Linked DNA regions of Homo sapiens. The protein of the gene in region 3 interacts with the protein of the main gene of each other region in a pairwise test. Each region holds a gene or a part of one and is shown on either strand. Other genes may lie near its edges. The genes, in order: COX8A, AMOT, MAGEA4 and UQCRB.

What was found.
Region 1: the proteins of MAGEA4 (region 3) and COX8A interact in binary tests that used the Homo sapiens proteins (3 or more experiments, as listed by UniProt).
Region 2: the proteins of MAGEA4 (region 3) and AMOT interact in binary tests that used the Homo sapiens proteins (3 or more experiments, as listed by UniProt).
Region 4: the proteins of MAGEA4 (region 3) and UQCRB interact in binary tests that used the Homo sapiens proteins (3 or more experiments, as listed by UniProt).

The regions. Positions count from the first base shown.
Region 1 is NC_000011.10:63,970,497-63,977,055, reverse strand, and holds COX8A (cytochrome c oxidase subunit 8A, mitochondrial), read right to left. Parts: upstream 2,437-6,559; 5' UTR 2,376-2,436; coding exon 2,262-2,375; intron 832-2,261; coding exon 736-831; 3' UTR 513-735; downstream 1-512. UniProt on the Homo sapiens protein: Component of the cytochrome c oxidase, the last enzyme in the mitochondrial electron transport chain which drives oxidative phosphorylation.
Region 2 is NC_000023.11:112,830,825-112,837,849, reverse strand, and holds part of AMOT (angiomotin), read left to right. Parts: exon of another isoform or gene 1-4,225; intron 4,226-5,479; 5' UTR 5,480-5,556; intron 5,557-7,025.
Region 3 is NC_000023.11:151,908,686-151,915,894, forward strand, and holds the start of MAGEA4 (melanoma-associated antigen 4), read left to right. Parts: upstream 1-4,203; 5' UTR 4,204-4,284; intron 4,285-6,824; exon of another isoform or gene 6,825-6,952; intron 6,953-7,209. UniProt on the Homo sapiens protein: Regulates cell proliferation through the inhibition of cell cycle arrest at the G1 phase. Also negatively regulates p53-mediated apoptosis.
Region 4 is NC_000008.11:96,232,526-96,240,215, forward strand, and holds the start of UQCRB (cytochrome b-c1 complex subunit 7), read right to left. Parts: upstream 3,021-7,690; 5' UTR 3,006-3,020; coding exon 2,987-3,005; exon of another isoform or gene 2,768-2,986; intron 2,012-2,767; exon of another isoform or gene 1,898-2,011; intron 703-1,897; coding exon 631-702; intron 1-630. Other genes in the region: MTERF3 (transcription termination factor 3, mitochondrial isoform 1 precursor), read right to left, coding at 6,966-7,160. UniProt on the Homo sapiens protein: Component of the ubiquinol-cytochrome c oxidoreductase, a multisubunit transmembrane complex that is part of the mitochondrial electron transport chain which drives oxidative phosphorylation.

The DNA.
Region 1 (6,559 bases), on a different chromosome or scaffold from region 3:
CGCATCACTGCACTCCAGCCTGGGCAACAGAGCAGGAGTCAGTCTCAAAAAAAAAAAAAAAAAAAAAAAAAAGCCAAGATTCTGCAAAGTCCCTACCCCCAATTAGGAAGGGCACCAGCACCTAAGAAATGAAGTCCACCAAAAAGGAAGACCAGAGAAGGCTGGCCCCTTAGAGGAAAGGCTTCTAGCTGAAGATCCAGCCCCAGTGGGACACACACACACACACACACACACACACACACACACACACACAGACACATACACGCCCATTGGGCTTTGCACAAACAAGGGAGCTGGAGGGGATGAGCCAGAAAAGCTGCACAATGACAACAGGCTTTGTCTTCCCAGGAAGCCAGGCACCATTTAAAGGTACAGAAGCACACGAGGAGTCCAGCTGAGGCACACAAAACCTACCACAGGGCAGCCAGCCGGGCGCTCTTCTCCACACCTCCACCCAGTGCCAGTGGAGGCATGAGCCCAGGCAGGAGGGAAGGCACAATGAATTTCTGAAGTAAAGTTTAAATAGATTTTATTGTTACAAGGGGGACCCCACCAAGCAGGGTCAGTGACCCCCAAGGAGGTCACCATGGAGACATCAAGAGGTCATGATTGCAGAAGAGGTGACTGGAATTGAATGACATGATCCAGGGGAGGCCGGCCACAAATGCAGTAACATGACCAGGATGGGCCGGTGGGGCTGGTCAGGTCACAGTGTGAGGGACAGAACGGACCCCTTCACTCTGGCCTCCTGTAGGTCTCCAGGTGTGACAGGATCCAGCCCGCTGGCAGGAGGAAGGTCACGAAGCAGGAGGTAAGCCCAACGGCCAATTCCTACACAGAGCACAAGAAAGAAGGCACCTCGGAGTCAGTATTCCCCTAGGCTCTCTAAGTCCTTGCAGTTCCCAGGCAGCAGAAAGCCCCGCTCAGGGAGCCAGGACTCAGAGGCAAGTGGGAGGCCCCGCATCCTCACGTTAAAGGAATCCACGCTCCACGGAGCAGACAGAGCAGGTCCAAAGCTACGCTAACCCTTGAGGTAAAGGGTCAGTTATAAGGAGGGGGAAGAGTGAGAGGAAGGAGAGACAGCTGGGGTTAGGGTTCAGGGAGAAATGCACCACCAGATGGTAAAGGAAGGGACAGGAAGCAGGATTTATTGAAACCTGTTTTAAAGCTGGTCTGGGCCGGGCATGGTGGCTCACACCTGTAATCCCAGCAATTTGGGAGGCCAAGGCGGGCGGATCACAAGGTCAGGAGTTAGAGACCAGCCTGACCAACATGGTGAAACCCCGTCTCTACTAAAAATACAAAAAATTAGCCGGGAGTGGTGGCGGGCGCCTGTGATCCCAGCTACTCGGGAGACTGAGGCAGGAGAATGGCTTGGCTTAAACCTGGGAGGCGGAGGTTGCAGTAAGCCGAGATCGCACCACTGCACTCCAGCCTGGGTGACAGAGCAAGACTCCGTCTCAAAAAAACAAACAACAAACAAAAAAAGCAAAGCCTGTATGTTAAGACCCAGGATCCTTGCATGGGCCAGTAACTCCAAAACGATACCTATCCTTCCTTGCCTGAAAACCCCCTCCCAGGCCGGGCGCAGTGGCTCACGCCTGTAATCCCAGCACTTTGGGAGGTTGAGGCAGGCGGATCACGAGGTCAAGAGATCGAGACCATCCTGGCCAACATGGTGAAACCCCGTCTCTACTAAAAATACAAAATTTAGTTGGGCATGGTGGCACGCGCCTGTAGTCCCAGCTATTCGGGAGGCTGAGGCAGGAGAATCGCTTGAACCCGGGAGTCGGAGGCTGCAGTGAGCCGAGATCGCGCCACTGCACTCCAGCCTGGCGACAGAGCGAGAACCCGTCTCAAAATAAATAAGTAAAATAAAATAAAATAAAATAAATAGCAGTAACAACCATTTTCGTCGCTGACAGCGTCAGGCATCCCCCAGTGAACCAACGAGAAAATGGGCTCAGAGCGGCTAAAGAAGTCGGCAGGAGGCGGCGCAGCGAGGAGGCGACAGGAGAGGGAGGGCCTGACAGGACCAGACCCGAGATCCTGGGGCTGTGGGGAAAGACCTAACGCCGACAGCCCCGACTGTCGCCCGGGCACTGTCCCCGTCGTTCGCGCCCTCCAGACATGCCCAAACCGGCACTGCTGCTCCCCGCTACGCTGCGGGGCGCGAGGCATTCTCAGGACCACCTGAGGTCAGCTAGGCAGAAGGGGTCAGCCCACGGCGCCTCCCGCGCTCTTCCAGGCCCGTTCCTCACCATGATCCCAAGCTTCCCCTCCGGCGGCAACGAATGGATCTTGGCGCGCGGCACTGGGAGCCGCCGGGCCGAGCCTGTCAAGCCCCGCAGCAGCAGCGGCGTCAGGACGGACATGATGGCACGGAGTACACCACAAAAAACGGTCAGCCGTAGCCCAAGGTCAGGAAGCCAAAATGGCTGCGCTGGCCGGAAGTTCTGGAGCTGGGGAAGCAGGGAAACTGCGGCGCGGAAGTCTCTCGGAAATGACGCAAGAACACACCTCCCACAGCCCTTGGCAGTTTTTGGCGCGTTCCTCGAAACAGCCAATTGACACCTTCCTACGCTATGGGCGGAGCACAAAAGGGCTCTTCTTCGAGTTATGTTCCGCCTCCAAGGCTTATACTTGTGAATGACATCTGGGGCCACCCAATCATGTACGCGAGAAGCCTAAACTGTTCTTGACTCCTCCCTTCATTCATACTGTTAAATCTCTCTCTATTCAGGCTGGGCGTGGTGGCTCACGCCCGTAATCTCAGAACTTTTGGGAGGCCGTCTGTACTAAAAAAAAAAAAGTACGGGCTGGGCGCGTTGGCTCACGCCTCTAATCCCAGCACTTTGGGAGGCCGGGGCGGGTAGATCATCTGAGGTCAGGAGTTTGACACCAGTCTTGCCAGCATGGTGAAACCCCATCTCTACGAAAAATACAAAAATTGGCCGGGCGCAGTGGCTCACGCATGTAATCCCAACACTTTGGGAGGCCGGGGCCGGTAGATCATCTGAGGTCAGGAGTTTGAGACCAGTCTTGCCAGCATGGTGAAACCCCATCTCTACGAAAAATACAAAAATTGGCCGGGCGCAGTGGCTCACGCTTGTAATCCCAACATTTTGGGAGGCCGAGGCGGGTGGATCACCTGAGGTCAACAGTTCGAGACCAGACTGGCCAACATGGTGAAACCCCGTCTCTACTAAAAATACAAAAATTAGCTGGGCATGGTGGTGGGCGCCTGTAATTCCAGCTACTCGGGAGGCTGAGTCAGGAGAATTGCTGAACCCAGGAGACGGAAGTTGCAGTGAGCCGAGATTGAGCCATTGCAGTCCAGACTGGGCCACAAGAGCGAAACTCCATCTCAAAAATAAAAAACAACAATAAAAAAAGTTCGAAAGCAGCCTGGCCAACATGGTGAGACTCCATCTCGACTAAGAATACAAAAAATAGCCAGGCATGGTGGTAGATGCCTGTAATCTCAGCTACTAGGGAGGCTGAGGCAGGAGAACTGCTTGAACCCGGTAGGCAGAGGTTGCAGTGAGCTGAGATCACGCCACTGCACTCCAGCCTGGGCGACACAGCAAGACTCCGTCTCAAAAAAAAAAAAAAAAAAAAATCTCTCTATTGAGAGTCCCCTCCTCTCCACCAGGCCTCCGTCGTTTTTGTTGAGAATTCCTGACACTGACCTAGTAACCAAACCTCCCTCAATTACTATTACACTCTTCAATTCCAGTTACCATGCTGGAGCAGCCAACTTCCCTTCCTTCCTACCCTATCACTCTCTCTCCCTCCCCCATCCCTTCCTTCTTGGTTTTTTAAACCTAAATCTGACCAAGTCATATACTTTCAGTGGCTCCCCATTGCTTCCTAGTCAAAATCCCAATTCCCGGATGTCACTGTCCAGCCTCAACTCTCAAAACTCTTCAATATTCCACACCTTCGACCCTGCTCTCTGATTTCCACCAACAAGCCTTTTGTTGCATTCAAAATGCACTCTGCATTTTGTTATTGATGTTGAGACAAGGTCTAGCTCTAAGCCCAGGCTGGAGTGGAGTGTGGTGTGATCTCGGCTCACTGCAGCCTTGCAACCTCCACCTCCCAGACTCAAGCCAACCTCCCACCTCAGCCTCCCAAGTAGCTGGGATTACAGGTGCCCACCACCATGCCTGGCTTTTTTTTTTTTTTTTTTTTTTTGAAATAGAGTCTTGCGCTGTTGCCCAGGCTGGAGTGCAGTGGCACTATCTTGGCTCTCTGCAACCTCCGCCTCCCGGGTTCAAGCAATTCTCCTGCCTCAGCCTCCTGAGTAGCTGGGATTACAGGCATCTGCCACCATGCCCGGCTATTTTTTGTATTTTTAGTAGAGACAAGGTTTCACCATGTTGGCCAGGCTGGTCTCGAACTCCTGACTTCAGGCGATCCACCCACCTTGGCCTCCCAAGGTGCTGGGATTACAGGCATGAGCCACAGCGCCCAGCCTAATTTTTGTAGTGTTTGTAGAGCTGGAGGGGGGTCTTGCTATGTTAGTCAGGCTAGTCTCAAACTCGTGAGCTGAAGCGATCCACCCAGATCAGCCTCCCAAAGTGCTGGGATTACAGGCATTTGTCAGGGCACCTGGCCTTGCCTCTGCACTTTGGGTTTTGTTTTTGAGACATGCATCACCCAGGCTGGAGTGCAGTGGTGCAATATCAGCTCACTGCAACCTCCACCTCCCTGGCTCAAGCGATTCTCCTGCCTCAGCCTCCCAAGCAGCTGGGATTACAGGTGTATGCCACCACACCCGGCTAATTTTTGCATTTTTAATAGCGACAGGGTTTCGCCATGTTGGCCAGGCTGGTCTTGAACTCCTGGCCTCATGTCATCTGCCCGCCTCAGCCTCCCAAAGTGCTGGGATTACAGGCATGAGCCACTGTGCCCGGCGTTGCTTCTGCATTTTATGTTCATTTTTTCAGCTCCTATGCAGGCTGCCTTTTTCACCATGCTAACTCCTGCTTCCTGGCTTCCAGTTAATGATACCACTTACTTTATTCAGTGAATATTTATTAGCCTCTACTGTGTGTTAGGAACTATTGTAGACACCAGTATGAACGAGGTGGATAGAGTTTCTTGTCACAAAGCTGACTTCTGGAGGGAAAAAACAGACAATAAACAGGCACTTAATTAGAAACTATTGTGTAAGTGTCACGGTGAAAATAAAACCATGATGTGCTAGGAAGATATGTGGGGTGGCACTACTCAGGATGCCTTCGCTGGTCACCCCAAGCCTGTGTCTCCTCTGTGCCCAGCAACACCTGTGTCAGCCCTGCCCCACATGGTGGGTCTCCATCAAGACTAGGGGCCACCTGAGGGCAGAGCCTGTGTTGGTTCACCACTGTTTCCAACCAGACACTCAGAATGTTTATAAACTGCAGGAGGCTGAACAGTATTGAACTAGGTAGAAGGCACATGAGAAAGGGGGTGTGGGACCAGCCCCTGGGCCAGGTCTTAATGGTACAATCTCATTCCAGGTTTACAATAATGTCATGAAATAGATGCTATTATTATTTCAATTATTTTATTTTGAGACAGTGTCTTGCTCTGTCGCCTAGGCTGGAGTGAAGTGTCACGACCACACCTCACTGCAGCCTCGACCTCCCAGGCTCAAGTGATCCTCTTGCTTCAGTTTCCCGAGTAGTTGGGGACTACAGGCACACACCACCATACCTGGCTTTTTATTTTTTGTAGAGGCAGGGTCCCACTATGTTGCCCAGGCTAGTCTTGAACTCCTGGGCTCAAGCAATCCTCCCACTGTGGCCTCTCAAAATGCTGGGATTACAGGCGGGAGCCACTGCGCCTGCCCTATTTCGAATTTTTTACAAATGAGGAAATAGGCCTGAAGAGTCAGGTGACTTGATCAAGATCATGAAGCTACAAGGCTGCCTTGCCAGGATTACAGGGCAGTTCTGTTGCCTCCAAAAGCCATGCTTTTAGCCACCACACATGCTGCTGCAGAGGTGGACTTCCCAGAAGTTCCAGTTTTGACATTGAGGTTAATAACATCAAAGGCTGTGGCAGGGGGTGGCGATGGGATGGCAAGAGATTGAGAAACAGGAGCTTTGGAAGAGAAACCTCAGCCCATGGTTTCTCTTCCATGGTGGTGGGGCGGGGGGGTGGTGTCACAGCAAGGTTGCAATGAACTCGCGGTGCCCTAGAAGGGGAGCTGTGTCTGAGCTTCCTCTGGAGGGATGTGTTCCCAGGCCCCAAGCTCATCCCTCTTCATCGCTCCCTCACCTTCCCCACCCCATTCTAGTTTTTTGTTTGTTTGCTTTTGGCTTACAACAACACAAATTCATTTTCTTACAGTTCTAAAGATCAGAAATATAAAATCAAGATGTCAGAAGGCCAGTATTTCTTGTCACGGCTCCAGGGCAGAATCCATTACCTTTTATTTTCTAATTTCTAGAAGCCACTTGTATCTCTTGGTTTGTAATCCCTTCAAAAATATGGAACGCTTCACGAATTTGCGTGTCATCCTTGCACAAGGGCCATGCTAATCTTCTCTGTATCGTTCCAATTT
Region 2 (7,025 bases), about 39 Mb from region 3:
AGTTAATTAGCTGGGGACTAAACCAATTTGTTTAGAATTGTGATCCATTGATTTCCTGTCCCCAGGAATTTTTGTTGGTGTTTTACTATGATGTGTTGTCTTTAGTCTTACTTACTTTTCCCTCCTTGCTGCCTTTTGTGGACTTTGGTCCAAATTCTAGGGTTCCACCCCCAAGTCAAAGGTTAGAATTTTGTCCCAGGAACTAAGGGGGTATTAAACAGGCTGGCCATACTGCATTACTCTCCTCCATGGTGGGCTTCTGACCCCTTTTAACCCAGAGAAAGGAGGGAAGTCGCCCCTTCCACACACAACACACACAATCTGAACAAAAAAAAAGAAAAAGAAAAAGAAAGAAAGAAAATAGGAGGTCATTTGCTTTATAAAAGAATCCACAACAGGTTTTCTTTGTAAGTACTAGCTTTCCTAGTTAGTGCCTTTAAACTATGACTTGATATATAAAAATTCACTCTAACTGGGCCTTCTCGGAAGCATATTTATTGCATAAAGGAATACATAAGAATTTGTAATGATTATCGCTTAAATTAAGTGAGGCCATTATTTGGCCTTTGAAATCTTTTTGTTATATGGAATGGAGTTAGTTAATTGTCTAAATCATTCTGGCTTGTAATAATGCTGGCCACGTTAGCTCTGGCCTACAACTGCTTGCAGAAGAAAGCTAGTATTACTTTTTGAAAATAAATCAGACTTTATAGATTTTGAACAATTCTAAGGATGAGACTATCCACCCCATATAGGTAAAATGTTTTATTTCCAGCTACTGTATTTGACTAACCCAGGGATCCAGAAAGTTATTTCTAGTAAATAATGGCGACTGATGCCACTTTAACCTAAGAATCTGCAATAAGATTTCCTAGTGAGCCTATTGGTGAGAAGGACCTGGGCTCTAGGCCCAACTGTAACTCGGTTTACTACCTCTGTTAAGTTTTTTTTTTTCCACTGTAAATTATGGGTTTGGACAGGGTAATTTTGAGAGCCAGTTCTTATACGTTTATGGTTTTCTTTCTAGGCCTCAATATCTAGTATGAATGTGAATGATTGCTACTAGAATGAAGTGCAACAGTTGTTAGAAATTCAATCATCTAGTCATCATGTTAAAGAAAAAAAGATCCTGTAAGGATATATGAATATAGATGCATTATGTTTTACATTTTAACAACCCAAAATTAAGAAGCTAAGACTCTGTCCAAAACTTCAAGAATTCCATCATCCTAAGAGATCACCTGCTTTCATTTTTTCTAGTTCCTTTCAAGTCCTGGTTCCTGTACTAACATGAGTTTTAGATAATTGGAGCCACAGATATATACAATGTTGCTTTTCAATAAGAGCCCACCCAAGACTTAACTTTGTGAACCCATGTGGAGGAACTAAGTCAGAATCTGACCGAGGACACATGAAGACTCCCATATATTTTGTTTCTCAAATGCCAGGAGAGGCTAATGGATATAATAAGTAATCCCTAAACACTCTCTGTGATTCAGGAGTTGTTCATGTATCTAGCAAGGCTGTTAATTTAATTCCTTTGACCTCCTGTTATCCCTCCCCCATTCTTGTTAACAACAACAACAACAAAACTAGGGTCCACTGTTTACTTTGTGTAAATCATTGGCAATGATTTTTAAGTCACTGTATGGTGAAATCCCATCAAGTGAGTATAAATTTGAGTGGAATATGAAATCTCCAGAATGAGAAAGGAGAAGCAGGAAAGCACAAATATACTTGTTTTGTAGCATGGAAAATAATATGTTTAAATTAGACTAAAAGATAGCAAAGAAACTAAGGATTTTAGACAGTTAAATAAAAGACAAGAAGTGCAGCAGCAGAATGGCCCACACATAATGGGTTCTTCATCTGAGGTCTTCACCATGTAGTCAAATTTCATAGTTCTTTAATTTTCCTTTGATAACAAAGGTGTGGTATACATGTGATCTCTAAGATTTGATGGATTAGCCAGGCATGGTAGCTCACACCTGTAATCCCAGCGATTTGGGAGGCAGAGGCGGGCGGATCACCTAAGGTCAGGAGTTCAAGACCAGCCTGACCAACATGGTGAAACCCCTGTCTCTACTAAAAATACAGAATTACCTGGGTATGGTGGCGCATGCCTGTAATCCCAGCTACTCAGGAAACTGAGGAATAAATTGCTTGAACCTGGGAGGCGGAGGTTGCAGTAAGCCAAGATCACGCCATTGCACTCCAGCCTGGGCAACAAGAGCAAAACTCCGTCTCAAAAAAAAAAAAAAAAGATTTGATGGATTCATTCCTGGAAACCAGTGGCTCATCATAAATTAGATTAAATTTCTCTAACTGGAATAGAAAGTGTGGTATGGGTTTTTAGTATTTAGAAAGTAGCAAATGAGGAACAGGAACTTTTTTTTTTTTGTAATATATGATCCTGGAGAAAATGCAAATGGGTGTATTTGCCAATGTTTCCTAAGGCAATTCTTGAAAATCTACTCTTTTAAGTCTGTGGGCTTGCCTTGACATTTGTAAAGGCACTTTCACTCTTGCCCTAACTCCATGAAATATCATTAGCCTGTGTGACTTGAAGCCAGGATCTGGTTTTCTCTGCCCAGCCCCTCTCTGTCTTACCATGTGACCAAGGGTAAATGAATTAGCTGCTCTAAGCTTCAGTTACCCTTCTGGGAAGCAAGGATATTAATAATCACAGAGGTGTTTCGGCATGCTTCATATTGGGCACATGCTTTGAGGTCATTGGATGAAAGGTGTTTGCATGATGGCAGAGCAGGCTTATTATAGGGTCTTGAGCAGGTGTTCCTTTTTAATGAGCTTTGCTCTCTTATAACATACAGTGCCCTTTGGTGCCCCATTGCCTTACTGACTGTAATTACCATTAACCCAACATTTGTATTATTGGCCCTCTCGGCTTTTTGGAAAAAAAATTAAACAGTTTTGTACTGTGTGGTAAGTTGAGGTACAAATAAGAGGACTCTAGCATCTTACAGGGTGGTGAAAAATAGCTTCAAAAAGAAACGTTAGTTGAAAAGGGCTATAGAGATCAGTGAGTTATTCAAAGCTCCTCCAAAAGATGAAAAAGAATAAAGCAAACTTCTGTGTGTGTGCGCATGCACGTTTTAAGGGAGAAAGTTTTCAGTAATATTTGCTTGTGACACATACTGATGATAGCCAGTAACTGAAACCCAGCCATTGTAGTGTTTTATACACAGCTGGATTTTATTAATGATGGAATATTTATGCTTGCTGTACAATTCGTGGCTCATTTCCATGTGTATGTCAGAACTTAAATACCCCCAAAAGAAACATTAAGATAACATGAAATATAAATGTGGCCAAGCTAGAAAGGGTGGATTTGGTGGAGAGTCTCCCTTCTTCTTATTGGTGTCACATCAGATCACAATAACTGTGCCGCCCCCCTATCAACCTTAGGCATTGATACTGATCTTTTTTTCCCCTTATATATACCCCATAGCAAACTTCACATTTCAATCTTTTTGATATGGACAAACGATCTGCTCTCCTCTTTATAATGCAGATAAAACTGATGTATGTGTTTTTTAAGAGCATATTTTCCCTGCACATGCTTCTCATTATCCGAGAGGCCTGGACTCAATCAGTAAAGGAGCAGAGAAACCACATAATTGAAAGGAGAATGACGGTGGTGCATACTTGGAATATTTGTGGGAAGGGGATTGCTGACATCAGAAAATGTAGTGGCCTGAGTGTTAACAGCATTGAAGAGAAATCAGCTTTCTGTGTTTCTGTGTATTGAAAATTATTTTTAAGGGAATAAAAATATGGGCCAGGTTTGACATCCTTTTATGAAGTTGCCCTGGAAACTTTGATGAAGATTGTTAAAGAATAGCTCAATTAAAACCTTCCCCATTAGGAAGCTAATTAGTACATCCCTTACTCATTTTGGTTGTTTTCAAGGGGCATGTATTTGCATTGAATTAGTGACATTTGTTCCATGTGATAGCAAACTAAGATAAAAATCACAGATGGGGAAAATTATTTAGATTGCCTGTTTTGAAGAAACCTAATTCCTCTTTATTACATTTAGATTTTCAGTTCAGAGTTTTGTTTTACTATGTTTATATACAATGATCACATTTTAGTGTGGTAGCCAGTTTTGCTTTCTGGATCATGGGCTATAAACCAAAGCTTATTTGAATTTCCCGTATGAATTAGGGAAATAGAACAAATGACAACAAACCATTTTATTAAGGTAAGATTTCATTTTTTTCTTCTACAATTAGTTTCTCTTTGGTCTATGTGTGTGTGCCTGAGAGAGAGAGTAGGGGAGGCAGATTGTTTTTTTAAAAAGCAAACAGTTTTTGAAGCTAAGAAAATTTTGATGACCCCCCCCCCCCCTTTACTCCCAGGAACATTCTGTCTGCCTCAGGCTGGGACCAGTTGGGCTTTGGTTAGGGGAACATGATGAATTTTCTGACCTGGTGCTTTCTGTGACCAGGCTAAGTGGTTCTCCCTTGGAAGCCTGAAGGAAAGAGGTTATGGTGAGAACAGGAGTGCAAGATTTCTAGCAGGTTCTTTTTACTGTACTCCACCTTTTTTTAGGGGGGTGAGTACTTGCTTCTGAGATTTTAGGGCCATTTGCAGTAGAGTCAATGCTTTATAGCCAAATGTAAAATATGGGCCAGTTGTGGCCCTCCTTTCCCCGCATCACTTTAGGTGACGGTCATTCTGTACCTAGGTTCCCATATGCTGTGCCCACGGTGTAGGTGTATGCCTGCAGTAGTTTGTGCAAATAAGAAAGTTAGCTGGGTTATATGATTTGTGGTTTAATCTCACCTTAGTCCTTCTTGGGAAGGCAGGGTTTAGATTCAGTTCTGCAGTGGCACCTCAGGCAAGGCAGGTTCCCTGTGCTTGCAAGGCAACAGCAGGAGGAGGAGGGGCTGCCTTCTGCCTTCAGAGAGTGACTCAGGCCCTTTGGTATGAAGATATGAAATGCTGGCTCCTGTCCATACACCTGCTGGATGCCACACCTGCAGTCAGCACCTGAGCCCCACTCAGACACAAAAACCAGACTGAAGGCAGATGGGGCTCCCTTGAAAAGGGGCACAGCGAAACAGGGAGCTCTCAATTATGTTAGTAGAGCCCCACTGGGAACTGGGTTTAGTCATCCCAGTGTTGGCGTGGGGAAACAGATTACTTTCTTTTAGATGCAGCTCACTCACTTGCTCAAGATACTGTTAGAGTGTTTCAGGAGTTTGCTTTCCTAATGAATTTCTCTTGTGAACTGTCCTCTTAAAAACTGGAGGGGCAATTCTGTGGAGGGTTATGTCTTAGAACCAAGCACAGGGCAGGAAGTCGCAAGACCTGGGTTCCAATGCTGGCCCTACCAATGGGCAACAGTGAAATTCTGGTCCAATTAGTTATGATTAGCTATCTGTTCTGGACTTGAGCTTCCCTCTCCAGTTCTAAAATGGAATTAATCACATCTGCCTTTATTTCCCCACAGAGCTGCTAAGAAGGACAAATAAGATAGCAGAGTGAAAGAGCTTTTGTCTCCTTAGAAGGAAGGCTGAGAAACTAAAGGTAATAATAACATTATTATTATTGTTATTCCATGTCTTTCTTTGTTTTCTTCTCCTGCTGTGGCCTCTAGCAAAGTTTTGGGGAAGTTATCATTCACTCAGTATGCAACTATTAAGCACATTTTATGTACCAGTTAATGTTTTAGGTATTGGGATGCATACAATGAAAAATCACGCACCCCGCCCATGCCCTCTAAGATCTTACAGTCTAGCAACTTCCCTTTCCATTTCTGGCTCAACCCGTAATAGTGATTGCTACCAGGGCACTCAGAAGCTTAAAAGGTGAGAGTTAACTTCTTTTTTTCTCTCCACACTACAGCTGGGGATTTCTGTCCCTGGAGCTGTGTATTGCAAGGTCTAGCTTGGAGATATATGGGAGGAAAGGCCATCGGGATAAATAAAGGAATTTCTTTCCCTCCCACATTTGCAAAGTACCTAACCCTTGAATGATCTTTTTTTTTTTTTCCCCAGAAGTCCATGTTTAGTTTCATCCTGGGTTCTGTTCTGTTCCTAGTCAATATGGTCCAGCCCTCTCTTATGACCTTAGCTGTCATCCATATGCTAATGACTCCCAAAGATATATCTCAACCTATCTTTGATGTCAAATTGGTCATCACACTCCATGTCTTCTACTCAGCTTATAGGTTTTTGATATTTTCCTCCTCTTGGGAGCTTTTTCAGGTAGCCCAGGGTTTTTTGCAGAGCCCTATGTGTTGCCGGAGCTATTAGCTCATACCTCTGTTTTCCCGTTGAATTGGGCCTCCTCTGCCTGACTGGGAGCTCCTCAAGTACTGGGCTCTCTTTTTATTTATTTATTTATTTATTTATTTATTTATTTATTTATTTATTGCCACCCTAGGCCTTACCTAGCACAATGTCTGGCTACAGTAAGTGCTCAGTAAAAGTTTATGGAAAATTTGCTGTGATAAGTGTCATCATAGAGAATTCATTTTCCATGTTGAGCAGAGTTGAGGTCAGGAATAGATGGAGAGGGATTAGGGAAAAATCTTCAAAGAGAAGATGGACAGCAGAACTGCCTTATTTTGAGAGTTCTGGCTAAGAAGTCACGGAAGGAATGCCTGTTGTGTCCACTGTTGTTAAACCAGGGGCATCTCTGACCTATTGCCTCCCCTGCTTTAGGACCGGATGATTTTTATGGTCAGGTCTGCAAATCAACCTCTGTCTATAATACATTGACCATTTAAGACAGGTGTCACTTAGTCATCTAGTATTAAACAGGGCTGACCTTAAATGTGCCACCTTAACTGAGGCTGAAAATAGAGCTACACACACAGGCTCATTGATCATGCCTGCTTAGTTCTATACAGCAAAATGTCCCTTAAGATATATTGAAGATTGGGATCTAAAAACTGACAAATTCAATTCTCAGAATGTAAGCAGGTTGGGTCACAAGAACTGAATGTCTTCAAGCTGACTGTCAGATCTTTCCAAGGGCAAAAATGAAAGATG
Region 3 (7,209 bases):
AGGCATCCAAGATGTATTTCATTTGGTGAATGGATTAAAAAACACGTAGATTAAAAAAACAGAATAGAGCCCCAACATAGACCTGCACACATACAATCAAGTGATTTATAACAAAAGCAATAAAGGTGAAAGTATAGTTGTTCCAACAATTGGTACATGAACAACTGGGTATCTAAACAAAAATAATAATAATAACCTAGACAAATCCTTAGGTATTTCACGAAATTAACTCAAAATACATCATAGACCTAATGCAAAATGCAAAAACTATACAACTTCTATAAGAAAACATGAGAAAATTTACATAACTTTGTTTGTTAAAGAGCTTTTAAATTAAACACCAAAAGCAAAAGTAGCAATGAGCACACCTAGCACCCAGAAGTAGATTTCTAGAACCATTTCCCATTAAAAGGAACCAGATATTTGGAGAAATGGCTTATTTATGACTGGGGCAGGGCATAAACCTGACGAGCCTGGGCCATTTTGCAGCCCTAGAAATTAAGGGCTAGAGAATATGATAAAGGACATTACAGTGTTGCAAATCCAGACTATGGAAAACTGGAAAGAACATAAGATATGTTTCTTTCCAACAACGAAGCGATGGCAAGAAAACAGATCATGTGGAGGGGACCTACAGGTGAGAGAAGATTTAATTACAAAAAATCACTATGTAATACTATTTTTGGGTACTCATCCAAATAAACAAATTTTTATAAAGTATAAGTCTTCTAGATAAGTGCATAAAACAGTTGAACATTTCATAATCATTTATTTATTTTTTAGAAATGAGAATTGTATTGGGTTTTTATTTGTAGTGATTGTGACCCAGAGGTGACTACAATCACGGGTGCTGCAGCCACCCAGGGAACACCTCGCCTGGTACCTGCAGCCATTCTCTGCGAGGGGTACAGCTGGGTACAATGTCCTTGTCTTTTAAAAATGAATATTGAATTATTTAGAGATGAAATGGTATGCTGTCTTTGATTTGATCCACATTATTCCAGCAGCTGAGATGCAGGTAGGTGAGTGTCTAACTGGAACCAGATTTGCCGTGTATTTAAGGTTGTTGATGCTGAGCGTCAGGTATGCTGGGTTCATTATGTTAGTCTCTCTATTATTCTATATGTGTGAGGCTTCCCTGATAAAAAAACGTTTTTTGTCATAAATATCATGCCATTAAAAATGAAATCCTAAATGATCCAACTATTTTGTAGAAATAAAATAAACAAATGACCAAATTGATCCAAAAAGAAAACTTCAATTAAACGACACAAACTGAAACTATACAATATTCAAAGCTCAAGCCATCCTCAAACGTCCCAGGTTAGTCGGTTTCGGAGGCTGATTCCACCAAATGATCAAGGAAAACTAACCATCATCTTATCTCAACTCTTCAAAGCACGCAAAATATAGACAATTCTTCAATTCATTCTCCCAGATTAACCCTTCTGGATTCAAAAATCAGATGAGGACCACCCCCCACTCCCGATGGAAAAAACACATAAACAAGCTCTCTTACATAGCAGCAAATATCTTATGTAAATTAGTAGAATATTAAATGAACAAACAAGCTCTACCCAAGGAAAGAAAATATGATTTAACATTAGAAAAAAAAGTTTCATTGTAATTTTTTACACACAAAATAGAGGAGAAAAAATTTATCACATCAATGGGTACAGGAAAAGCTTTTGGAAGAAATTCAATATGAGTTCATGGTAAAAATATTTAGTTAACCTATATTGAAAGAGAACATACATTTCCTAAAATCAACAGCAAACAAATTTAAGAAGTTCAAAGAATTATCATTAAAGGCAGGAACACGAAGTAGATGTAGGCTATTATCTCTACGTTTTAAATCATCATTGAGACACAAAGTCAGAGCTATAAGTATCATAATAAATAAGGGGCATGAATATAGGAAAAATACATAATGTTTAGTGATAATACCCTTATCATTCTTGAAAATTCAAAGAAAAAGGCATGTGGAATATTCAAGTCAATGGGTTTTCAGAATGAGGTGTACAACAGATTACTATAGCAAAATCAAATTCTCTGCCACACAATAGCAATAACTATTAGAGTTAATTAATTTCCATTAATTAGAACAATTAATAGAAAATATGCCATTTGCAATAGCAACAAAATCCAAGAATTACCAAAAAAGAAGCCTAAGAAAAATGTGTAAGGTCTTTCTAGAGGAAACTATCAAAGTATACTGACAGATTCAGGTAAAAGGAGTTTGAAATAAGTAAAGGAGCATAACCTATTCATTGATCAGGAGCAGAACATTGTAAAAATGTCAATTCTGCTTAAATGATTTACAATTTAGTGTCTTACCTGTAGCTGCCAAAAATTACAGTCACACTTAGGCTGCTGTTCTCTGGTTCCCAAATCAACTCTGGAAAATTATAGAAGAGAAAAAGAAAGAAAGAAAAAACAACAATATAAGCAATAAAATCTAAGCAACAAAACACAGAAAGTCCTGGGTGAGACTGAGGACTGTGTTGAACTGGTACTTATGTTTGGGGCGGTGTCAGTTGGAGGGGGGTTGGCTGCAGGGATGTTGAAGTCTATAGCCTGCCTAGACGTCAGATGACAGAATGAATAGGATGAACATTTTAAAATCTCCACCTCACTGCACTGCACAATCTGAGGCAGCACCTCAAAACACGATTCCAGTAACCCTAGGGTAATAGCAGGACAGCAGGAAAATTGGGTTGGTTAAGGCAGTATGGTTCCGGAGATCTGCTAATTACAACCTGAAACCAACTTAGTGGATGAGGATTAGCATTATTATTATTATTATTATTAATATTATTATTATTATTATTATTGAGACTGTCGCCCGGGCTGGAGTGCAATGACTCGATCTTGGCTCACTGCAACCTCCGCCTACCAGGTTCAAGCGATTCTCCTGCCTCAGCCTCCCAAGTAGCTGGGATTATAGGCGCCCACCACCACGCCCAGCTAATTTTTTAATTTTTTTTCTATATTTAGTGAAGACAGTGTTTCACCCTGTTGGCCAGGCTGGTCTCGAAAAGAATTATTTTAACAGAACATAAACAATGGAATAGAAGTTGAATAGGGTATCAGAGTGAATCATGCAAACTAAGGGTAGGTATTCTTTCATAGAAATAAATATATATGTTGCTACCTATATATATCCTTGGAAGATATGTAAAATATATTTCTTTGAGGAAAAAAGGTTTCCAAAGTCCAGCTCTGGCTGGGGAGGAGCCCCCGTGGGAAGGCGTGCATCTTCTCACAGAGGTCACTACAATAACGGGTGCTGCAGCCACCCAGGGAACACCTCGCCTGGTACCCGCAGCCATTTTCTGCAAGGGGTACAGCTGGGCAAATGCTCAGAGGTGAGAGAAAAAGAGCATCTCCAACCCATCACTTCAACAAAGAGCCAGGACCCAGGAAGAGGACCCTCCTGAGTGAAGACTGAGGGTAAACCCCCGCTCAAAGAGGGGCCACAGAATCCAGCTTAGTCCCTCCTGTCAGCCCTGGAAGACCCCAGCGGCTTTGTCGCCCAAGGACACCTCTCCCCCCACTGTGACCTCAGGGGACTAGGAGTCAGAACCTTGGTCTGAGGGGAGCAGACACCATCCGCAGAGAACAGGGGTCCAGGCTATGCCAGGAATCAAAGGACTGAGGGGCACGCCTACCTCAACCCCTAACCCCAGGACCTCTCGCCTCCTCCCCCACCCCAACTCCCACCCTGGCCGAATCCGGTTCCACCCCTGCTGTCAACCCAGGTGGCCCGGATGTGACATCCCTGACTTGCGCATTGGTCTGACCAGCAACTCGAGATCCACGGAGGGAAGCAGGCGCAGGCTCTGTGAGGAGGCAAGGTGGGGGCAGGCTGTGCCAGGCGTCAAAGTCAGGACCCTAAGAGAGAGCTGAGGGTTCCCCACCCCCATTCCTATCCCCCACCCCATTCCCATTCCCTTCCACACTCCTAACCCAATCCACACCCTCATCCCCTACCAGCACCCCATCCTCCCCAACCCCGTGCCACCCTCATACCCCCATCCCCAATTCAACCCCCGCACCCTCATCCCCCACCCCACACCTGCACCCCCACCCCCCAACACCCATACCCCCATCCAGGCAGGATCCCCGGTTCCGCCCCCGCTTTCAACCAAGGAAAGCCCCAGCTGCCCGGATGTGATGCCACTGACTTGCGCACTGGGGGTTAGAGACAAGCGAGCTTCTGCGTCTGACTCGCAGCTTGAGACTGGCGGAGGGAAGCCCGCCCAGGCTCTATAAGGAGACAAGGTGAGATGCTGAGGGAGGACTCAGGAGGACCCCCACCCCACATAGACGACCACAAAAAATCCAACACCACCCCTGCTGCCAGCCCTGGGCCACTCCTGGAGACTTCTCAGTCTGTGGTGGGGGGGCCACCACCCCACTGCCACTTAAGCCTCAGGGGATTCTGAAGTCAGAGCTTGGGGTGATCAGTGCAAGACTGGTGGGGGCAGGCTCTGCCAGGCATCAACCTCAGGACCCTAAAAGCCAGCTGAGCGTACCACACCGCTATTCCCATCCCGCAACCCCATTCCCATCCCCTAACCCCTTCCCATTCCCATTCGCACTCACAAACCCATCTACACTCCCATCCTCCACCAGCTCCCCATCCTCCCAAACACCCCACCACCTTCATACCGCCATCTCCCACCCCCAAAAACCCGCCCCCTCCACCGACCTCACCCCTCCCACCCCCATCCACGCTGAATCGGGTTGCGCTCCCTCTTTCAACCCAAGAAAGCCCCAGGGGCCCGGATGTGATGCCACTGACTTGCGCATTGGGGGTTAGAGAGAAGCGAGCTGCTCTGTCTGACCAGCAGCTTGGGATTGGCGGAGGGAAGCGGGCCAGGCCCTGTGAGGAGTCAAGGTGAGACGCTGAGGGAGGACTCAGGAGGCCCCCACCCCAGATAGATGACCCCAAATAATCCCGCACCACTCCTGCTACCAGCCGTGGGCCACCCGTGGGCGGACTTCTGAGTCTGGGGCGCCCACCACCCCACTGCCTCTGAAGTTGCAGGGGACTCTGGAGTCAGAGCTTGGGTTGATTAGTGTAAGACTAGTGAGGGCAGGCTCTGCCAGGCATGGACCTCAGCACCCTAAGAGAGGGCTAAGCGTACCCCACCCCTATTCCCATCCCCCACCACGTCCCCTTTCCGATTACCATTTGCACTCCCAAACCATCCACGCCCCCATCCCCCACCAGCACTCCTCTCCTCTTCAACCCCCCACCTCTCTCATACCGCCATCTCCCACCCCAACAACCCGGGCCCTTCTACCAACCTCACCCCTCCCACCCCCATCCACACTGAATCACGTTCCGCTTCCGCTTTCAACCCACCCCCAAAAACCCGCCCCCTCCATCGACCTCACCCCTCCCACCCCCATCCACGCTGAATCTGATTTCCGCTTCCTCTTTCAACCCAAGAAAGCCCCAGGGGCCCGGATGTGATGCCACTGACTTGCGCATTGGGGGTTAGAGAGAAGCGAGCTGCTCTGTCTGACCAGCAGCTTGGGATTGGCGGAGGGAAGCGGGCCAGGCCCTGTGAGGAGTCAAGGTGAGACGCTGAGGGAGGACTCAGGAGGCCCCCACCCCAGATAGACGACCCCAAATAATCCCGCACCACTCCTGCTACCAGCCGTGGGCCACCCGTGGGCGGACTTCTGAGTCTGGGGCGCCCTCCACCCCACTGCGTCTGAAGTCGCATGGGACTCTGGAGTCCGAGCTTGGGGTGGTTAGTGTAAGACTAGTGAGGGCAGGCTCTACGAGGCATCAACCTCAGGACCCTAAGAGAGGGCCAAGCGTACCCCACCCCTATTTCTATCCCCCACCGCCTCCCCTTTCCCATTACTATTTGCACTCCCAAACCCATCCGCGCCCCTATCCCCCACCAGCACTCCTATCCTCAACCCCGCACCTCTCTCACACCGCCATCTCCCACCCCAAAAACTGGGGCCCCTCCACCAACCTCACCCCTCCCACCCCCATGGATGCTGAATTGGGTTGCGCTTCCGCTTTCAACCCACCCCCAAAAACCCGCCCCCTCCACCGACCTCACCCCTCCCACCCCCTTCCACGCTGAATCGGGTTTCCGCTTCCGCTTTCAACCCAAGAAAGTCCCAGGTGCCCGGATGTGATGCCACTGACTTGCGCATTGGGGGTTAGAGAGAAGCGAGCTGCTCTGACCAGCCGCTTGGGATTGGCGGAGGGAAGCGGGCCAGGCCCTGTGAGGAGTCAAGGTGAGATGCTGAGGGAGGACTCAGGAGGCCCCCACCCCAGATAGACGACCCCAAATAATCCCGCACCACTCCTGCTACCAGCCGTGGGCCACCTGTGGGCGGACTTCTGAGTCTGGGGCGCCCACCACCCCACTGCCTCTGAAGTCGCAGAGGACTCTGGAGTCAGAGCTTAGGGTGTTTAGTGTAAGACTAGTGAGGCCAGGCTCTGCCAGGCATCAATCTCAGGACCGTAAGAGAGGGCTAAGCGTACCCCACCCCTATTCCCATCCCCCATCACGTCCCCTTTCCCATTACCATTTGCACTCCTAAACCCATCCGCGCCCCCATCCCCCACCAGCACTCCTCCTCGACCCCCCACCTCTGTCATACCGCCATCTGCCACCCCAAAAACCGGGGCCCCTCCACCAACCTCACCCCTCCCACCCCCATCCACGCTGAATCGGGTTCCGCTTCCGCTTTCAACCCACTCCCAAAAACCCGCCCCCTCCACCGACCTCCCCCCCACCCCCATCCACGCTGAATCGTGTTTCCGCTTCCGCTTTCAACCCAAGAAAGCCTCAGGGGCCCGGATGTGATGCCACTGACTTGCGCATTGGGGGTTAGAGAGAAGCGAGCTGCTGTCTGACCAGCAGCTTGGGATTGGTGGAAGGAAGCAGGCCAGGCCCTGTGAGGAGTCAAGGTGAGACGCTGAGGAGGACTCAGGAGGCCACCACCCCAGATAGACGACCCCAAATAATCCTGCACCACTCCTACCTGCCGTGGGCCACCTGTGGGCGGACTTCTGAGCTTGGGGCGCCCACCACCCCACTGCCTCTGAAGTCGCAGGGGACTCTGGAGTCAGAGCTTGGGGTGTTTAGTGTAAGACTAGTGAGGCCAGGCTCTGCCGGGCATCAATCTCAGGACCCTAAGAGAGGGCTAAGCGTACCCCACCCCTAT
Region 4 (7,690 bases), on a different chromosome or scaffold from region 3:
ATATAATTTAAATTAAAATTTTAAGTGGAAGGCCGGGCGCAGTAGTGCACACCTATAATCCCAGCACTTTGGGAGGCCGAGGCAGGTGGATCACCTGAGGTCAGGAGTTTGCGACCAGCCTAATATGGTGAAACCCCGTCTCTACTACATACAAAAAAAATTAGCCAGGCGTGGTGGCACACGCCTGTAATCCCAGCTACTCAGGAGGCTGAGGCAGGAGAATCACTTGAACTCGGGAGGCGGAGGTTGCAGTGAACCGTGATTGCGCCACTGCACTCCAGCCTGGTGACAGAGCAAGACTCTGTCTCAAATAAATAAATAAATAAATAAATAAAATTTTAAGTGGAAGAGTTGGGAAAGGGGGTGTAGAAGGAAAATGTCTTACTACTTAAATCATTACCAAGTCGAACATTTTAGAGGCTTTCATCCCTCTTCTCTCAAAAAAACTTTAAAAAGGAACTGGATTTAACATAATGTGATTTAATTTTAAAATCTTCTGATGTATACAAGAACTGAAATGGTTTTTGGAACCACAGTAACACTTGCAAAAGCAATACTCTCAGAAAAACAAAAAAAAAAACAAAGAAACAACAACAACAACAAAAAACATTAAACAGCACAGCTGCTTACCCAGTTTATTGAATCCTGCAGCATTGTAATACCATTTTCGAATACCATCCAGCCACTTGCCTGATGCTGAAACTGATAATTGTCACACTGTTAATTGCTACAATTTAATTATACTATATGAACACATTGATAGGCAAGCAACCAGTACTCAGTTATCTTGCTGATGAATGCAAACATAGAAATAAATTTCCTTTTAAAAGTATATAGTATATACAGCAAGAATTTAATCAAAAGAATTAGATTTAAAAGAAAAAAGTTTATACTCTATAAAATGTTGATAAAAAGTGCTTATTTTATTTATGAGCAAAAGTGGTTGCAGGAAAATGGTGGCAAGTCATGAAAGAAAAGGGTAAACTCAAACACTGAATGTACAAAAGATCCATAGGTACATCGTGTGCCCTTATGCCTGCCCTGTTACCTTCAGAAATGAAGGGGTGGGAGATAGGAAAAGGACTTGGAAATTTCCATCATTTGTAGTTTCATAAATAGATCACAGGAAATAATTGTAAACTTTTCATTTCAAGAGAGCTGGAGTTGTAGGGAAAAGACAGTGAGATTTCAGCATAGACTGGCAGGTCTAAATGACCCTCATCCTCTAAAATTTTTACTCGATATTACAGTTATTTCATTTGGCCACATTCTTTAAAAATGTATGTATTTTGGGGAGGATTTTGATACCATTAGTCATTTAAACATTAATATGGATTCGTAAAAGAAGTCCATTTACCTCCTCCTAAGCAACTAAGTTCCCCCCAAGGGAATGGATATTGAAAAAGGATGAGAAATAGGTAATTTTAAAACTGTTTGGGGAACAGGGCTGAGCCTGATGAAGTAACCCAGCAGGGTCCAAGTACAGCAGGACCGTATCTGACATTTTAGGAGAGACATTTTACAAAAGGAGAGGTAGAACAGGTTTGTATTCTCTTTTAAAATTTTGTCTAGGGTTAGCCCTTACCAAGGAAGGAAAGCAAACTCTCCTTTCACTCAACTCTCCTTGCTTGCAAACTCAGTGCACTACAGATTACGTGGCTTTAGCAAATCTCCTTGGAAATTAAGAGTCATGTATAAAACTGCTGCTAGAAAAACAAGTATCAGTCAACAATCTACAAACATACTTGTGGAAGACAGATTATATTCAACCACCTATCAGTGACTATAATAATATTCACTAAGCACTTATTGTGCACCAAACACTTTCCTATTTGCTTTACCAACATTAGCTGATTTATTTACATGTCTGTTACTACAGAAGGGGAAGCTGGCTTACAGAAGTGATCCCACCCAAGGTCAGAGTTAGCTAATGGGAGTTGAGATCTGGTCTATGTAGTTCCCAAACACGCACAGAAGCAGTGTCTTGAATTTAGTAAGACTCCTTCAATATCTGCCAAATTAATAAAATAATTATTTAAAAAGTCTCCCCCACCCCCAAAAAGCTCAATGTCAATTAGGTTAACGGATGTTTCTGGCAACCTGATGTTTCCTAACAGCTTCACAATTGCTGGGGGCGGGGAGAAAAGGATCAACATTTTTTAAGCTACTCCAACTTGGTTGCATTGCAGTGAGACGAGATTGTGCCATTGCACTCCAGCCTGGGCGACAAAGCAAGACTCCGTCTCAAAGACAAAACAAACAAACAAACAAAACGGCTACTCCAACTTGTACCGCCAGAGGGCAGAGATTAGCAAAAAAAAAAAAAAAGAAAGAAAAAAGAAAAAAAGAACCTACAATAAATTCAAATTTCTCCAAACCTACTGATCAAGCTGACGCTCTAGATAATCCAAGGTCAACCTGAAGCGTCGCTCGTATCCCTTGCTCAACTGTCTCTGATTCGCAGTTTGAGAAGCGCGAGGGGTGCAATGATATTTCCAATTCTACTTCCTTGGGTCACTTTGCCTCAGTTATCTTATCAGCGTAAAAGGGAAATTAATATCTCCCTCGTCGCAATGGCAAGAAAATTTATAGGGCCAATGCACACGATAGAGCACTTGGGTCATAGAAAGCACTGAGCTCATTCGGGTTGAAAGTCATCCACTAGTTATCCTCTTGTGCCCTTTAACTTTTCTAAGGCCAAGGGGAAGGACTTCCAAGCACGGGCAGCTGGAACTCCAGGGCTGTCAGAGCCACCGCGGGCACCTTCACAAACAGCGGGTTAACATCCCAACCCTATACAGGCAAGCCCGCCCTGGGGACAGCAAACGAGTGGGGAAGCACATCCTTTTCACTGGACTGAAGCAGCCAATTTCCCTTCCGCGACAAACTTGGCCACTTACAAAGAAGAGAGAAAACGGAGCAAGCTGCAGCAAAAATAAACGGTGAAGCGCGACGATGCCGGCCAAGAAGACCCCCAGTTACTTACCGGCCTGCTTACCAGCCATTTTGACCAGAAAGAGAAGCGTTGCCTTCTGGGTAAGTCATAGAGGACAAGCTGGGCCCAGTCCGCAGGCGCGTTACGTCACATCGCGAACAGAGAAAGGCCGCTTGCGCAGGCGCAGTTCTGACGACTGCCGTTCAGCACCTGCGTAAGCACCTCTCGGCCAGGGTGAGGCCAATGGAGTAGGCGGGGCATTTTGCGTGCTACATTCTAAGAAGTATTGGTTGTGATGTGATGGGAAGAACACAGGTCAGGAATTAGGAGACCAAGGCTTAAAGCTGGGTTCTGTTATTTGCTGTTAATAGCTATGGGAGCGTGGACAGTATTAATTCAGCTCTTTGTGCCAGGCAGGAAGCTAAATGTTTTAAGGGCATCGTCTTACTTTCTATTGAAGGACTGATGGATGTGCCATCCCAAAAATATATGGAATTGGTACATTGATTATTTCGAGTTGAAAATATTGGAGAAATTGTAGTTTCAGAAAAGGTTTGATGACCTATCTCTTCCTGCATGCAGCAAGCCATAAAGCTTCCTCCAGGATTCCTCTGGAGTACCCGTCCCTTACCAGAGGGAGAAAATAGCACCTATCACCAGAGACGAAACTGGGGGCTGCTTTGGACCTGAATATACTTTCCGAAGTAACCGTTATCTTCCACTAAGTTTACACCCCAACACACACACTTTTCTCCTAATGACTCCGCGAGAAATTTACTGCCCCTAGCCAGATCCCCTTTCTTCTGATTTGTAGTTCGTGTAAAAAGTATAAAGGCATCTTACATTGGCCACTTCACTCTTTTGTGCGGATCCCCATGTACATGTAAAACTAGTAAAATTAGTATGCTTTTCTCTTGTTAATCTGCCATGTGTCAATTTGGTTCCTAGATTCAACCAAAGAGCCCACATAAGAGCAAAGGGGAGGGAGGGTTGGAGGTGATCTCTCACTCCCCTAAACTATCTTTTAATTCTAAAAGTACTGTAATTATCTCATTGTAGAGAGGAGAAAGCTGAGGCTCAGAAAGGTTGAATAACTTGTCCAAGAGCACATGACTAGAAGAGTCCAGGTTCTTCTTCCAGAATCTGAAAATCCAGATGCAAATTTGGGGCTCCTTAATTCTAGGGTCATATGCTATACTGCTACACTACTAATCCAGGAAAGACACCAAGCCTTTCAGGCCTTGGGTTTCTCCAGCTGAAGATCTATATCTAGCTATTTTAGTGGAAGGTTAGGTCAGAAAAGGTTTTGGGTTTTTTTTGTTTGTTTTTTTTCACCCTTTTTTTTGTTGTTCAGCCTCTGTCACCCAGGCTGAATGGCACAATCTCGGCTCACTGCAACCTCTGCCTCCTGGGTTCAAATGACTCGTGCCTCAGCCTCCTGAGTAGCTGGGACTACAGGTGTACACACTACCATGCCCGCTAATTTTTGTATTTTTAGTAGAGACGGGGTTTCACCGTGTTGGCCAGGCTGGTATCAAACTCTTGACCTCAAGTGATCCACCCACGTCAGCCTCCCAAAATGCTGGGTTACCCGCGTGAGCCATCATGCCCAGCAGAAAAGGTTTTTAAAGATTAAATCTAAGATGTATTGCAGAATTTGCACACAATTTTAAGACAAAAGAGAAGTATATAGATTTTCTCACTTTTAAGGTCTCAACCCCAACATGCGAAGTCTTAGGCATAAACATCTAGAGACAGAAAACAATTAGGGGGAGCTAGCATGACTGATAGTTACTGGTGAACTTCTACCATTACTCAGTGATATCTTTTTTTTCCCCTCAGTTTTAAGCTCAGAGCTGGGACAATATAGAGTAGAACCTTGTCTCATCCTAAGTTCAAAAGGTTAGATTTAACGATCTTAGTCACATTCCAGTTCTAAAATTATATTGATTTTCCTTTTTCTTCTATCTCCATGCTGTCACAATTTCTTCATTAGTCAGTCCTGTATACAGCACTAAAGCTGATGAATGATCTATCTTACACTAGCCAAAGTGAAGTCTGAAAGATGTGAAGAAATGCAGTACATTTGTACATTGGCACATTGCCCTGCAGAGGGTAGGTACTCAATAAACTCTCCTCCCTTCCACCCTTTAAGTTTTAGCTTGCTGGTTACAGGTGAAGGTGGCAAGAAAAGACATATCAAAAGATCTGAAACCCAAAATTGTCACAAAATCCAGCTCCTAAGGAATTAAGCTAGAGAGACTGAATGTTTGCTGGTAGTGATTGTTGATTCAAAAACTATTTTTGGTTTTCTTTCCTCCCAGCACAGGATTAGGGATTGCCTCTCTGCCCTATTAAAGTTAGGCATGGCCATGTGATACTTTGGCCAAGAAAAATGTGATAACTTTTTAAGAGCAATTCTTCACATTCCTTTCCTTTTCCATAGACTGGCAACACTCCAGAAATGATGGAGACAGGATACATCAACCTGTATCACTGAAGATGATGTGGAGCAGAGCCTTTGTGGTCCTAAGAAACATGTATAAGATAAAAACTTTTGTGGTTTTTCAATCATTTGAGGTTTTAGGATTGTTCATTGTATCAACACAACTTGCCTATTCTGACTGCTAAGGTTGTTCACTGGGTTATTCATAAAGGCAAAATGAGGTTGTGAGCCACAGAAAGAGAGGACAGGATGGTTCCATGGTGTCCCCAGCTTATTTTTTATTGTTTCCTGTTTATTGATCTCATCCATTGGAGAACTCCATGAAAGCACATATCTATGCCACACTCACCACTGTATTATAGAACTCAAATGTCGGTTGCATGAATAAAATATGTAACAGGAAGGCCACTATACCTGGCCCTGACCAATTACAAATTTAGTTTTTCATGAGGTTTTTTAAAGGGCATCCAGCACACCACAGAACCCTGTGCACAACAAACTACCCCCAAAGTTAGCGGCTTAAAACACTTTCTCCCAATTCTGAATTCCGCTGGGTCGTTCTGCTTAGTGTAGTATCTACTAAGTCTGGGACATCCCAGATAATTTCTTCATGCATGTCTGGTGCTCAGTTGGCATGTCTGAAAAAGCTGGGTTTGGCCAGACATCTTTCTGTCCACCTAGTTTCTCCAGCAGAGTAACCAGACCTCTCTACACAGTAGCTTAGGGTGCCAAGAGCAAATGTTCCAAGAGGGCAAGCCCTGATGTGCAAATCCTTAAGCCTCTGCTTGACAAATGTCCTCTGGGCCAAATCACATCGGCCCAGAGTCAGTGTGGGAGAGGACTAACTACACAAGAGTGCAAATACCAGGTATGGTTCATGGGGGCCCCCAGTGTTAACAGTCTACCCAATCTGGTGATCATAAGGCAGACAACTGAAGTCATGATGCTTCGTTTTACAAATAAAAAAGCAAAGGCTCAGAAATGAAATCACTTGCCCAGGATAACACATGTTGTAAATGGAAAACAAATATTTGTTTACTGGTAATAAGTCAAAGGCTAGTTAAGCCTTTCACTATATCTCATTGCCCCTAATCTTTAAACTCCACTTTCCTTTTCCTTATTCTTAGCCAACTGTGAATATCTGTGTTCAAGAAGTTAACAATGTAGATAATCCAAAATGAAGTGTGTTTTGTAGCATTATCTGAGCAGTAGATATTAGATGACTAATGTAGTATGCTCTGGAAACTCGTAACAGTTCAAAGGAAATAAAGCCATTTTATAATGAAACCACTTTAAAAATCCTCCACTGTTTTCATCTTCACGAGAATGACAAAGCACCAACTTAAAGTAAACCAACTCTTTCCCCTTCTCTGAGCTTGCTGTATTTCCTAAGAAGGAAGGAAAAAGTCAAACAAGAATTAAGTCACTAGGAACTTGATGAAAGTTCTACCACAGTATATGTACCCAAATTTACAGTATCAAATGGTTTCCAATATCAGTTGAGACCCGAGGCATTTAAAAATATATTCATTTATTCATATATATATTCACTTTACAATACTGCATTTTAACATACATAAAAATCTAAAGCGTTTTTAAGAATTTTTCAAAGTCCTGTACTGATGCTTTGGCAATCTCTTCACAAAATATTTCATCAGGAATAGATACTAGTTTGTCCAAAGAGATGTAGTTAGGTTTTGCTGGATCATACTGTGCTCTTCCTAAATAGGTAAGAAACAAGTGTCTTTCTTTGACCTTAAACAGCCTTGTATTAAATACCTAGAAAAGAAAAAAAAGTTTTTAAAAAACACTGCACACGGGAGGATGAAATATTAAAAAGTTTACTTGGCAAAAATTTTAATAGGTTAACCAATACCAAGTACTGACCATGTGTTCAGTAAGTAGGATAAATGCCAGAGGATTTAAATCCTATATTTTCTGTGAAGAAACTAGAAAAAGGGATTCAAAATCAACATACAAAACAATAATAAAATAATTCAGGGCTATACTGTGTGCAAAGAAGATTGAGTGCTCCAGAGACAGAGGAGAATGTGTTAAAAAAGCAAATCTTCGGCCGGGCGTGGTGGCTCACGCCTTTAGTGAGGCTGAGGCAGGCGGATCATCTGAGGTCAGGAATTCAAGACAAGCCTGGCCAACATGGCAAAACCCTGTCTCTACTAAACATACAAAAATTAGCTGGGCGTGGTGGCGCATGCCTGTAATCCCAGCTACTCAGGAGGCTGAGGCAGGAGAATTGGTTGAACCCAGGAGACGGAGGTTGCAGTGAGCCGAGATCGCGCCACTGCACT